Homo sapiens: one gene and its partners. The protein of the gene in region 1 purifies or fractionates together with the protein of each later gene. This does not show direct contact. Each region holds a gene or a part of one and is shown in the gene's direction. Other genes may lie near its edges. The genes, in order: SUGCT, ARF4 and ETFB.

Region 1 (3,658 bases):
CACTTTGGGAGGCTGAGGCAGATGGATCACAAGGTTAGGAGTTCGAGACCAGCCTGGCCAACATAGTGAAACCCCGTCTCTAGTAAAAATACAAAAAAATAGTCAGGCGTGGTGGTGGGCACCTGTAATCCCAGCTACTTGGGAGGCTGAGGCAGGAGAATTGCTTGAACCCAGGAGTGGGAGGCTGCAGTGAGCTGAGATTGTGCCATTGCACTCTAGCCTGGGCGACAGACAGTGCAAGACTCCATCTCAAAAAAAAAAAAAAAAAGTGTGCTTCTTATCACATTTACAGGTAATATATGAAGATTGAGGGAGAGGGAATTCTTTTTTTTTTTTTTTGAGACAGGGTCTGACTCCAGTAGCCCATGTTATAAATAAAGGTTTGGTGCCACAAAAGAAATAGCACTGGAATATAAAATTTTCTTTTTAATTCTCAGCAAGGCAATGTACTTCTATAGAAGAATGCGCCCTTACAGATGGAACAATGGTGAGCACACACCTGGACAAGGGAGGGGAAGGGGTTCTTATCCCTGATGCACGTGGCCCCGCTGCTGTGTCATTCCCCTATTGGCTAGGTTTAGACCACACAGGCTAAACTAATTCCAATTGGCTAATTTAAAGAGAGTGACGGGGTGAGTGGTTTGGCAGGAAAAATGGTTATGGCAGAGCAGGAAATCTGAATGAGTCAGGGTGGAGAATGAGCAGGTAATCGGAATGACTTAGGGTGGAATAGGTAACTGGAATTAGTCATGGTGGAGCAGGTAATCAGAATGAGTCAAGGTGAAGCAGGTAATCGGAATGAGTCAGGGTGGAGCAGGTAATTGGAATGAGTCAGGGTAGAGCAGATAATTGAAAAAGGTTGCTTTACCAGGAAGTTAAGTTTAAAACTAGAAAGCAAAGAATTGAACCTACTGACAAACTGATTCTTTGAAGAGAAATTTAGAACTCATATCTAACATTCTGTCCTCTTGCATTTCCTTACGGCTCTTTTTCTTCAAACTTCTTTAACATGTCTTGGCTTAGTTGTTCTACAGATTTTCCAAAAGAAGAAGCTTCTTTACATAAGGCAGAGAATAGTTAAGGGAGGTTTTAGTAAGTGCTGTTTTTATGAGCCTCTGCACCAACCCATGGATGCATGGTGTGACACAGCACCTGACAAGAGTAAGTACACCCATTATGGCTGCGAGGGAAGTAAGAACTGAGGCTATTATTCTTTTCCACTTACTGAACCACTTTTCTAGCCATCCTGTAAAGGAGTCATTTACCCCTGAGTTGTTGGCTAACTCATTGGACACAGCACTCAGACCTTGCAATGCCTTTGTTATACTTCCATCAGGGACAGTGTTGTTTGGGATGAAGGTACAACATTTGTGTTTTAATCATGATACAAACTCCTCCTCTTTCTGCTAATATCATGTCTAAGGCTATCCTATTTTCCCAAGCCATGTGGCTTGTAGCCCCTAATTACTCAGCTATTCCTTTAACAGCATCTCTAGTATAGTTAATAAATTGCTGTTGGTTGTAATAGATGTAGTTTATCCAATCTACATTTTTATTAATTGTCACCCACCAAAATATTGACTCAAATTCTGTAGCTATTTGATTTTGGGGTTTAAATTGATCTGGTATTCCCTGTGGGACTCCAATTGCATTTAAATAGATGTGAGAGTCGAAAGACCCATAAGAGGCTTCCCTTGCTTTATGACGTCTGGTTTTTCCTTCCTCTGCTTGATGAAAGGCCAGAGTAAAAGGGATAGCCGATTGGACTAGAGCATAAATACTGCTCTAATTATTTGGCAGAGTGTCCAGTAAAGGTCCTCCATAATCCCACCATACATCCGCTTAGGGATGAATAAGGGCAGACTGATAGGTCAGCTCTTGGAAGTGCCACACTTCACTGCATCCTGTTAAGTCTCCAAGGAATGCCAAATTTTTCCCTTGGTCGTTGGAGACATGAGGTAAAATTGATTTTGGAAAATGGAGGCTGGATGGCCCTTGGGGGCTGACCCGCAGCATGCTGGACTTTGGGATATAGCAGAGAGAGAGTGTGGCACAACTTGTTACTCTAGGCTGTAGAATCCTGGAAAAGAGCTACCATGCAGCCCATGCCTGGTTGACTGGATGACCACCCTAGTGGAAAGGGGACAGTCTGGGCCTCTGGCCTGCGGTGCGCACAAGCATAACAATTGCTTTTGTTTAACGTGCAGACGGAATATTTGATCCATTCCAACCAGGCATTTGCATCTTGGTATCTTGTCTTAATTGCCGAAGTTTGTTTTAAGTCTTTAACTTGTATGATAGCTATCTTGGTCTTGTCGTTAGATGGAGGAGTGGCAATTGTTCAGTTGTGAGAGGTTTTGGAAGAAGGCTTAGAGGAAGGTGCAGGCACTGGGGGATCAAATAAACACATTTCAAAGAATCCAATAGGGTCTGTCCCTGAAACCTCAGCCCCCATACCATAAAACTGGCTTAAAGAAGGGAACTGGCTTAGAAAAGGGGAAGAAGTTTGAGGGTTCGAGATAATAACCTGTATTGGAATGCACTGGTTTAGCTGACCCCCAGTTGGGGGTTGGCTGTCCCTCTAGTAAAATGAATGTATGGTTTTAGGAAATTACAAAAACTGGTTGGGGCAGTCCATCCTTGCTCTTTAGTGGTCCACAGAATGTTGGACAAACTACGGCATAAAAGCTCTACACTGGGGGGCAAGACTCCTGGTTGACACTGGGGTCTTTACCAAAATCTCCCTGGATTAAGTGGTCTCAATTCACTAATGTCTAGTCTCAGGAGAGTCAGGAGGGAGAGAGGTACTTTTCTGAAGTAGAGAGCTGTCTTTGACTTGGCAAGTCCCCACAGGGTATAACAAGGCAAGCATCAAATGCAATAGTTTGAAGAGAAATTGACTTGGTTATGTTAATAACTAGATGGTCAGCAATAGAGCGAGGAAAGAAGAAAGAGTAATAGAATAGATGAAAGAGAGTGAAATTTTTCTTTGCTTTAGTTTGGTAGGGTTTTCCCCTGGGACTATGGCCCATGACTCTGGAGGGGGCGGCGCTTTCTTGACTCAGGTGTGATGAGTCTATTCCCTTTCCCACTGTAAGAACAGCAGTCTTGGTGGTTAGCAGCACAAGGTAGGGTCCTTCCCAGGGTGGCTGGAGTTTTCCTTCTTTCCACCCTTTGATGAGACCATGATCTTCAGGCTGTTGCTGGTTTACCGGAAATTCTAGGGGTGGTACCTGTGCTAAAAGACTTTTAGTTTTGAGGGAAAGGAAAGTGGAAGATAAACCAAGTATACAATTTCTAAGAAATTGATCTTTTGTTTTAAATGTGGGGACATCAGCAGTGGACTTTATAGTCCTTGGTGTCTTCTTACTGAGAAATTTCCTTTAGCACCTATTTTTATTAGTTTTTAGACCAAAGAAAGCCAAATACCATTTTATATTTGACAATGCTTCCTGTATGATTTTTATACCAGAAAAGCTAAATTTCACCTTTATATTAGTGTGCTATTAGTGATAAACTTAATTTTAATAAAACTTGTAGACACATTTATCCAATTTTTAATGTCTGACCATAAGGTAAGATTTTTATAGACTCTTTTTAACCTTGTATAATTTTTGTTAAAGAGCAGGTTAGTGCTTTAAGAAAAACCTGTTGTGCT
Region 2 (3,658 bases), on another chromosome or scaffold:
CAATTTTAAATTATTATTTTAAACTATTACGCAGCCTGGGCACCATACCATGGCAAGACCTCATCTCTACAAAAAAATTTTAAAAATTAGCTGGGCATGGTGGCGTGCCCCTGTAGACCCAGCTACTAGGGAGGCTGAGGTGGGAGGATTGCTGGAGCCCAGGAGTTTGAGGCTACAGTGAGCCATGTTTGCACCACTGCACTCCAGGCTGGGTGACAGATCGAGACCCTGTCTCAAAAAACAAATGTATATATATGTACACACACACACTTATAATTATGAAGGTATATTTCAAACTTGTAGATAATTTGAAAGATAAAGGAAAACATGAAAAATCTTTTTATCCATCTGAAAATACTCTTTTGTCTTTCCAGTCTTACTCCTTTCTGCAATATTTTTTTCTCCCTCAAAGTTGAGATCATTGGATCTAACTTTTTTCTTTTTTTGAGACGGAGTCTTGCTTTGTTGCCTAGGCTAGAGTGCAGTGGCGCAATCTCGGCTCACTACAGACTCCGCCTCCCGGGTTCAAGCGATTCTCCTGCCTCAGCCTCCCAAGTAGCTGGGATTACAGGCACCCGCCACTGCGCCCGGCTAATTTTTGTATTTTTTAGTAGAGACAGGGTTTCACCATCTTGGCCAGGCTGGTCTCAAACTCCTGACCTCATGATCCATCCACCTCAGCCTCCCAAAGTGCTGGGATTACAGGTGTGAGCCACTGCACCCGGCCTCAATTTTTCATCACTAATTATGATACTAGCTGTAGGTTTTTTATAGATGTTCTTTTTTTGTTTTTTGTTTTATTTATTTATTTATTTATTTATTTATTTATTTATTTATTTATTGAGACAGAGTCTTGGTCTGTTGCCCAGGCTGGAGTGCAGTGGCATGATCTCGACTCACTGCGCCTCCACCTCCCGGGTTCAAGCAATTCTCCTGCCTCAGCCTCCCGAGTAGCTGGGATTACAGGCGCCCGCCACCATGCCTGGCTAATTTTTGTATTTTTAGTAGAGATGGGGTTTCACCATGTTGGCCAGGCTGGTTTCAAACTCCTGGCCTCATGATCCACCCTCCTCGGCCTCCTAAAGTGCTGGGATTTCAGGTGTGAGCCACCGTGCCCGGCTGGATCTAACTTTTTAAATTTAAAATGTAAGTATTTCTTGCTGCCATAATTATGGGCAAAGGTTTGTTTTTTTGGGTTTTTTGTTTGTTTTTTTGAGACGGAGTCTCGCTTTGTTGCCCAGGCTGGAGTGCCGTGGCGCGGTATGGGCTCACTGTAACCTCCACCTCCCGGGTTCAAGCGATTCTCCTGCCTCAGCCTCCCAAGTAGCTGGGTTTACAGGCGCCAGCCACCACGCCTAGCTAATTTTTGTATTTTTAGTAGAGACTGGGTTTCACCACGTTGGCCAGGCTGGTCGCGAACTGCTGACCTCGTGATCCACCCACTTCAGCCTCCCAAAGTGCTGGGATTACAGGTGTGAGCCACGGGGCCCGGCCTTGTTTGTTTGAGACAGGATCTTGCTCTGTTGCTTACGCTGAATTGCAGTGGTGTGATCATGGCTCGCTGCAGCCTTGATCCCCTGGGCTCAAGGGATCCTCCTGCCTCAGCCTCCCACGTAGCTGGGAATATAGATGGGCACCACCCTGCCTAATTTTTGTTTGTTTTGAGACAGGGTCTCAATTCTGTTGCCCAGGCTGAAGCACAGTGGTGCGATCACAGCTCACTGCAGCCTTGACCTCCTGGGGTCAAGTGATCCTCCCATCTCAGCCTCACCCAGTAGCTGGGACTACAGGCATGTGCCATCACAACCGGCTAATTTTTTTTTTTTTTTGAGACGGAGTTTTGCTCCTGTTGCCCAGGTTGGAGTGTAATGGCGCGATCTCAGCTCACTGCGACCTCCGCCTCTCAGGTTCAAGCAATTCTCCTGCCTCAGCCTCCCGAGTAGCTGGGATTACAGGCATGTGCCACTACACCCAGCTAATTTTGTATTTTTAGTAGAGACGGGCTTTCTCCATGTTGGTCAGGCTGGTCTCTAATTCCTGACTTCAGGTGATCCACCTGCCTTGGCTTCCCAAAGTGCTGGGATTACAGGTGTGAGCCACTGTGCCTCACTCACACCTGGCTAATTTTTGTATTTTTTGTAGTGACAGGGTTTTGCCATGTTGTCCAGGCTGGTCACAAACTCCTGAGCTCAGGTCATCCACCTGCCTCAGCCTCCCAACATGCTGGGATTACAGGTGTGAGTAGAGACGGGCTTTCTCCATGTTGGTCAGGCTGGTCTCTGACTCCTGACTTCAGGTGATCCACCCGCCTTGGCTTCCCAAAGTGCTGGGATTACAGGTGTGAGCCACTGTGCCCCACTCACACCTGGCTAATTTTTGTATTTTTTGTAGTGACAGGGTTTTGCCATGTTGTCCAGGCTGGTCACAAACTCCTGAGCTCAGGTCATCCACCTGCCTCAGCCTCCCAACATGCTGGGATTACAGGTGTGAGCCACCATGCACAGCTTCCCAGCTAATTTACTTTTTCTTCTTTAAAGATGGATCTCGCTATGTTGACCAGGCTGGTTTCAAACTCCTGGGCTCAAGCGATCCGCCTGCCTCAGCCTCCCAAAGTGCTAGGATTACAGGTGTGAGTGACTGCCTGGCCAGCAAAGATTTCTGAGGTAGTTTTCCTGCTATAGTAACACTTTGGTCAAAGTGCAGGTCTAGTTAAGGAGAACAAGTATTCCAGTACATCTTTAAATACAGTTGCTTGTTTCTGGACACGGAGGGGAGGGAGACCATTGCTGGGCTATACAGATTAGTCTTATCTTGGCTAGTTGAAAATTGGTAATAGTTTTCATTTTGTGGAGAAATTTCATTGCCAAATATTGCAACATTAAGGAAATACATAAGAAATGACTGAAGTGGCTCAAAATTGTTGGACCAATATGTTTTTGAGTAAAGAACTATAAGTTTTAAGTGATGACTGTATATGTTTAATTCGTGCATTAAAGCTTATAAATACCTTTTTCAAAAACTCTTAATTTGCATTTATACAGCATTGTTATTTTTGATACAACTGCATAAGATACATTCTGTGTTGCTGTGAGCCATTAAACTGTTGTCTTGTAATTTATATTTAGAAAATAATTTGTGGATACTTAAAAGTCATTATGGGCGCATTATTTTTTCCCCTTGAATTCTGGGGTGACCTAGAAATGGTTGCATGATTTTGTAAACACTTCCCTTTTTAAAAAAGTAAAATGAGTATGTAAAATATTATATATTTAAAGCCCTCAAGCAGTCGTCTTCAAAAAGATACATCAGGAAATGTAAACAGCCCAACATTTTAATTAAAAAAAATCTGCTTGGACAATTTTTTTTCTCTTTTCATAAAAGTAATACATGATTTTTGGGTAAAAAAAAATTCCTATCAGTAGAGGAGCAAGGAAAATAATTATTCATACAGTATTCATACAAGCACATATAAAACCTATTAAAAGAAAACTTGGATTACCTACATGCTTTTGTATAATTTAAAATGATATAGTCATGATTTGTCTTGGATTTCTTCAATTCTTTTCTTTGTCAGTATTTTTGGATTTACTTTTTTTTTTTTTTTTTTTTTTTGAGACTGAGTTCCGCTCTTGTTGTCCAGGCTGTAGTGCAATGGCAC
Region 3 (2,518 bases), on another chromosome or scaffold:
GAGTTCAGGAGGTCAAGACTGCAGTGAGCTGTGATCATACCACTGTACTCCAGCCTAGGTGAAAGAGGGAAACCCTGTCTCAAAAGAAAAAAAAAAAAAGAAGCAAGGCACATAGACAAATTTAAAATTTTTCACAGCTACATAAAAAAGTAAAAAGAAACAGACAAAATTATATTTTATTTCACCCCATTATATCTAAAATATTATTTTAACATGTAATCAACATAAAAATATTAAGATACATATGCTCTACAAGCAATGGGGTTACGTCCTGATAAATCCATCATAAATTGAAAATATTATAACTGAGAGAATGCATTTAATATTCTTAATCTACCAAATATCATAGCTGAGCCCAGCCTACCTTAAACATGTCACAACACTTAACGTTAGCCTACAGTGGGGTAAAATAATCTAACATAAAGCACATTTTATAATAAAGTGCTAAATATCCCATGTAATTTATCAAATACTGTACTGGAACTAAAAAAACGGAATGGTTGTACGGACACTGGCAGTATGGTTTCTACTGAATGTTTATCACTGTCACATCATCGGAAAACTGAAAAATCTTAATTCAAACCATCATAAGTCAGGGACCATCTGTATTTTACGTTTTTTGGATTTTCTTTGTACTAAATCTTCAAAATTCAGCATGTATTTTATATTTACAGCACATCTCAATTCAGGTGCTAAATTTCTATGAGAAACACATTCCTAAAGATGACAGTTGAAATAGATTTACACACCCAAGTTGTTCAAAACAAACTTAAAAGTTTTCTAGTAACTGCATTTCCAGTAACTGCATTGGGTATCTGTGTTTTTTTGTTTGTTTGTTTGTTTGTTTTTGTTTTTTTTTTAAACAGCTTCGTTGAGTTATTTACCTACAATAAACCGCACATATCTAAGTTGCACAATTTGTTAAGTTTGCTTTTCTTAAACTCTTTTATTTAGATAGAGATGGGGGTCTCACTATGTTGCCCAAGCTGGTCTTTAACTCCTGGGCTCAAGCAAGCTGCTCACCTCAGCCCTCCAAAATTTAAGTTTTGATATGTGTTACATCCATGAAATCATCACCACAATCATGATAATGTGTCTTGAATTCTCAGTATTTATTTATTTTTATTTTTTTGAGGTGGAGTCTTGTTCTGTCCCCAGACTGGAGTGCAGTGGCGCGATCTTGGCTCACTGCAGCCTCCGCCTCCCGAATTTAAGCGATTCTCCTGCCTCAGCCTCCCGAGTAGATCGGATTACAAGCGTGCATCACCATACCTGGATAATTTTTGTATTTTTAGTAGAGACAGGGTTTCGCCATGTTGGCCAGGCTGGTCTTGAACTCCTGACCTCAAGTGATCCACCCGCCTTGGCCCCTCAAAGTGCTGGGATTACAGGCATGAACCACTGCGCCTGGCCAAATTATCAGTATTTAAATTTAAATAAAATGTAAAAATTCATTCCTCAGCTGCACTGGCTGGACAGCCACACGCAGCCAGTGGCTACTGGATGGGACAACACATTCAAAACCATTATCCTGTTTTATCTTCAAAGCATTTACCACTGTCTGACTAGCTTCTCCAACGTGCGCCCTTCTTGCTCTCATATCATGTGTCTTATTTTCTTCTTATTCCTTCTGATTGGAAATGATCTCATTTGTGTGTGTGTGTTTTTCCCTGGTGACTGGTTGTCTTCCCTGGCAGAATATGAGCCCACCCAAGCTGGTGCTTCACTGGTCGTGTTCACAGTGTGTCTCCAGGGGCAGGTTCATAAGGGCACTAGGAGGAGGTTGTGAATGAAGGGAGGTGATGTTCACACTAAGACCTGAAAAATGTGTCCAGTTAATAAGTGGACAGGGACAAAGGTCGTTAGACAAAGAGGAGTGTAGGTGGCATCAGTTACCAGGGGAGGAAATGTTGATTCAGGACTGAGAGGCAAAGGGACCTGGCTAGAGGACGGGGTCCCAGAAGGTGGTTTAAGGACTGGTGTGGACACACACAGTTCTGTTGTCTGCCCAGCGGAGGGGCCTCACGGGGGGCCGTTGGGAGCCAGATTGTCAGCTTTTGGATTTACCAGCTGTGGGTGGCAGTGGGCGTGTAACTCAGCATCTTGCTGCCTCAGTTTCTCTCATCTGTAAAGTGGGGATAATAACATTTACCTCATAAAGTTCCTGCGAGGATTCGATGACTTGATACATCAGTTGCTTAGCACAGGGCTCAGCACTCAGTACATGTTCCCTGTCAGGAAGGCAGGGAGGCCTCACTGGCAGCATCAGGACATGGGACATCAGGACATACACCGTGGCTCTCAGGGAAAGGAAAAAGACCCTCTCCCAGGTGTACAAGCTCGATTCTAAACCTCATGGGACCCTGCATTGTTCGCTCCCTCATTCATTCACTAGTCCATGCGTGTACTCAGTAGTGGCATAAGCAGACTGCTCGGGTCGGACCTGAATTAGCCTCACCCACTCTCCTCCTACACTGTCCCTCCCCAGGGCACATTCGCCTCCCAGGTGACGCTGGAG

What was found.
Region 2: the proteins of SUGCT (region 1) and ARF4 purify together in Homo sapiens (co-immunoprecipitation; one large-scale study listed by IntAct). This does not show direct contact.
Region 3: the proteins of SUGCT (region 1) and ETFB purify together in Homo sapiens (co-immunoprecipitation; one large-scale study listed by IntAct). This does not show direct contact.

Annotation. Positions count from the first base shown.
Region 1 is NC_000007.14:40,141,387-40,145,044, forward strand, and holds part of SUGCT (succinyl-CoA:glutarate CoA-transferase), read left to right. Parts: intron 1-343; exon of another isoform or gene 344-444; coding exon of another isoform or gene 445-487; intron 488-3,658. UniProt on the Homo sapiens protein: Coenzyme A (CoA) transferase that reversibly catalyzes the transfer of a CoA moiety from a dicarboxyl-CoA to a dicarboxylate in a metabolite recycling process.
Region 2 is NC_000003.12:57,587,274-57,590,931, reverse strand, and holds part of ARF4 (ADP-ribosylation factor 4), read left to right. Parts: intron 1-3,658.
Region 3 is NC_000019.10:51,347,029-51,349,546, reverse strand, and holds part of ETFB (electron transfer flavoprotein subunit beta), read left to right. Parts: intron 1-2,488; coding exon 2,489-2,518. UniProt on the Homo sapiens protein: Heterodimeric electron transfer flavoprotein that accepts electrons from several mitochondrial dehydrogenases, including acyl-CoA dehydrogenases, glutaryl-CoA and sarcosine dehydrogenase.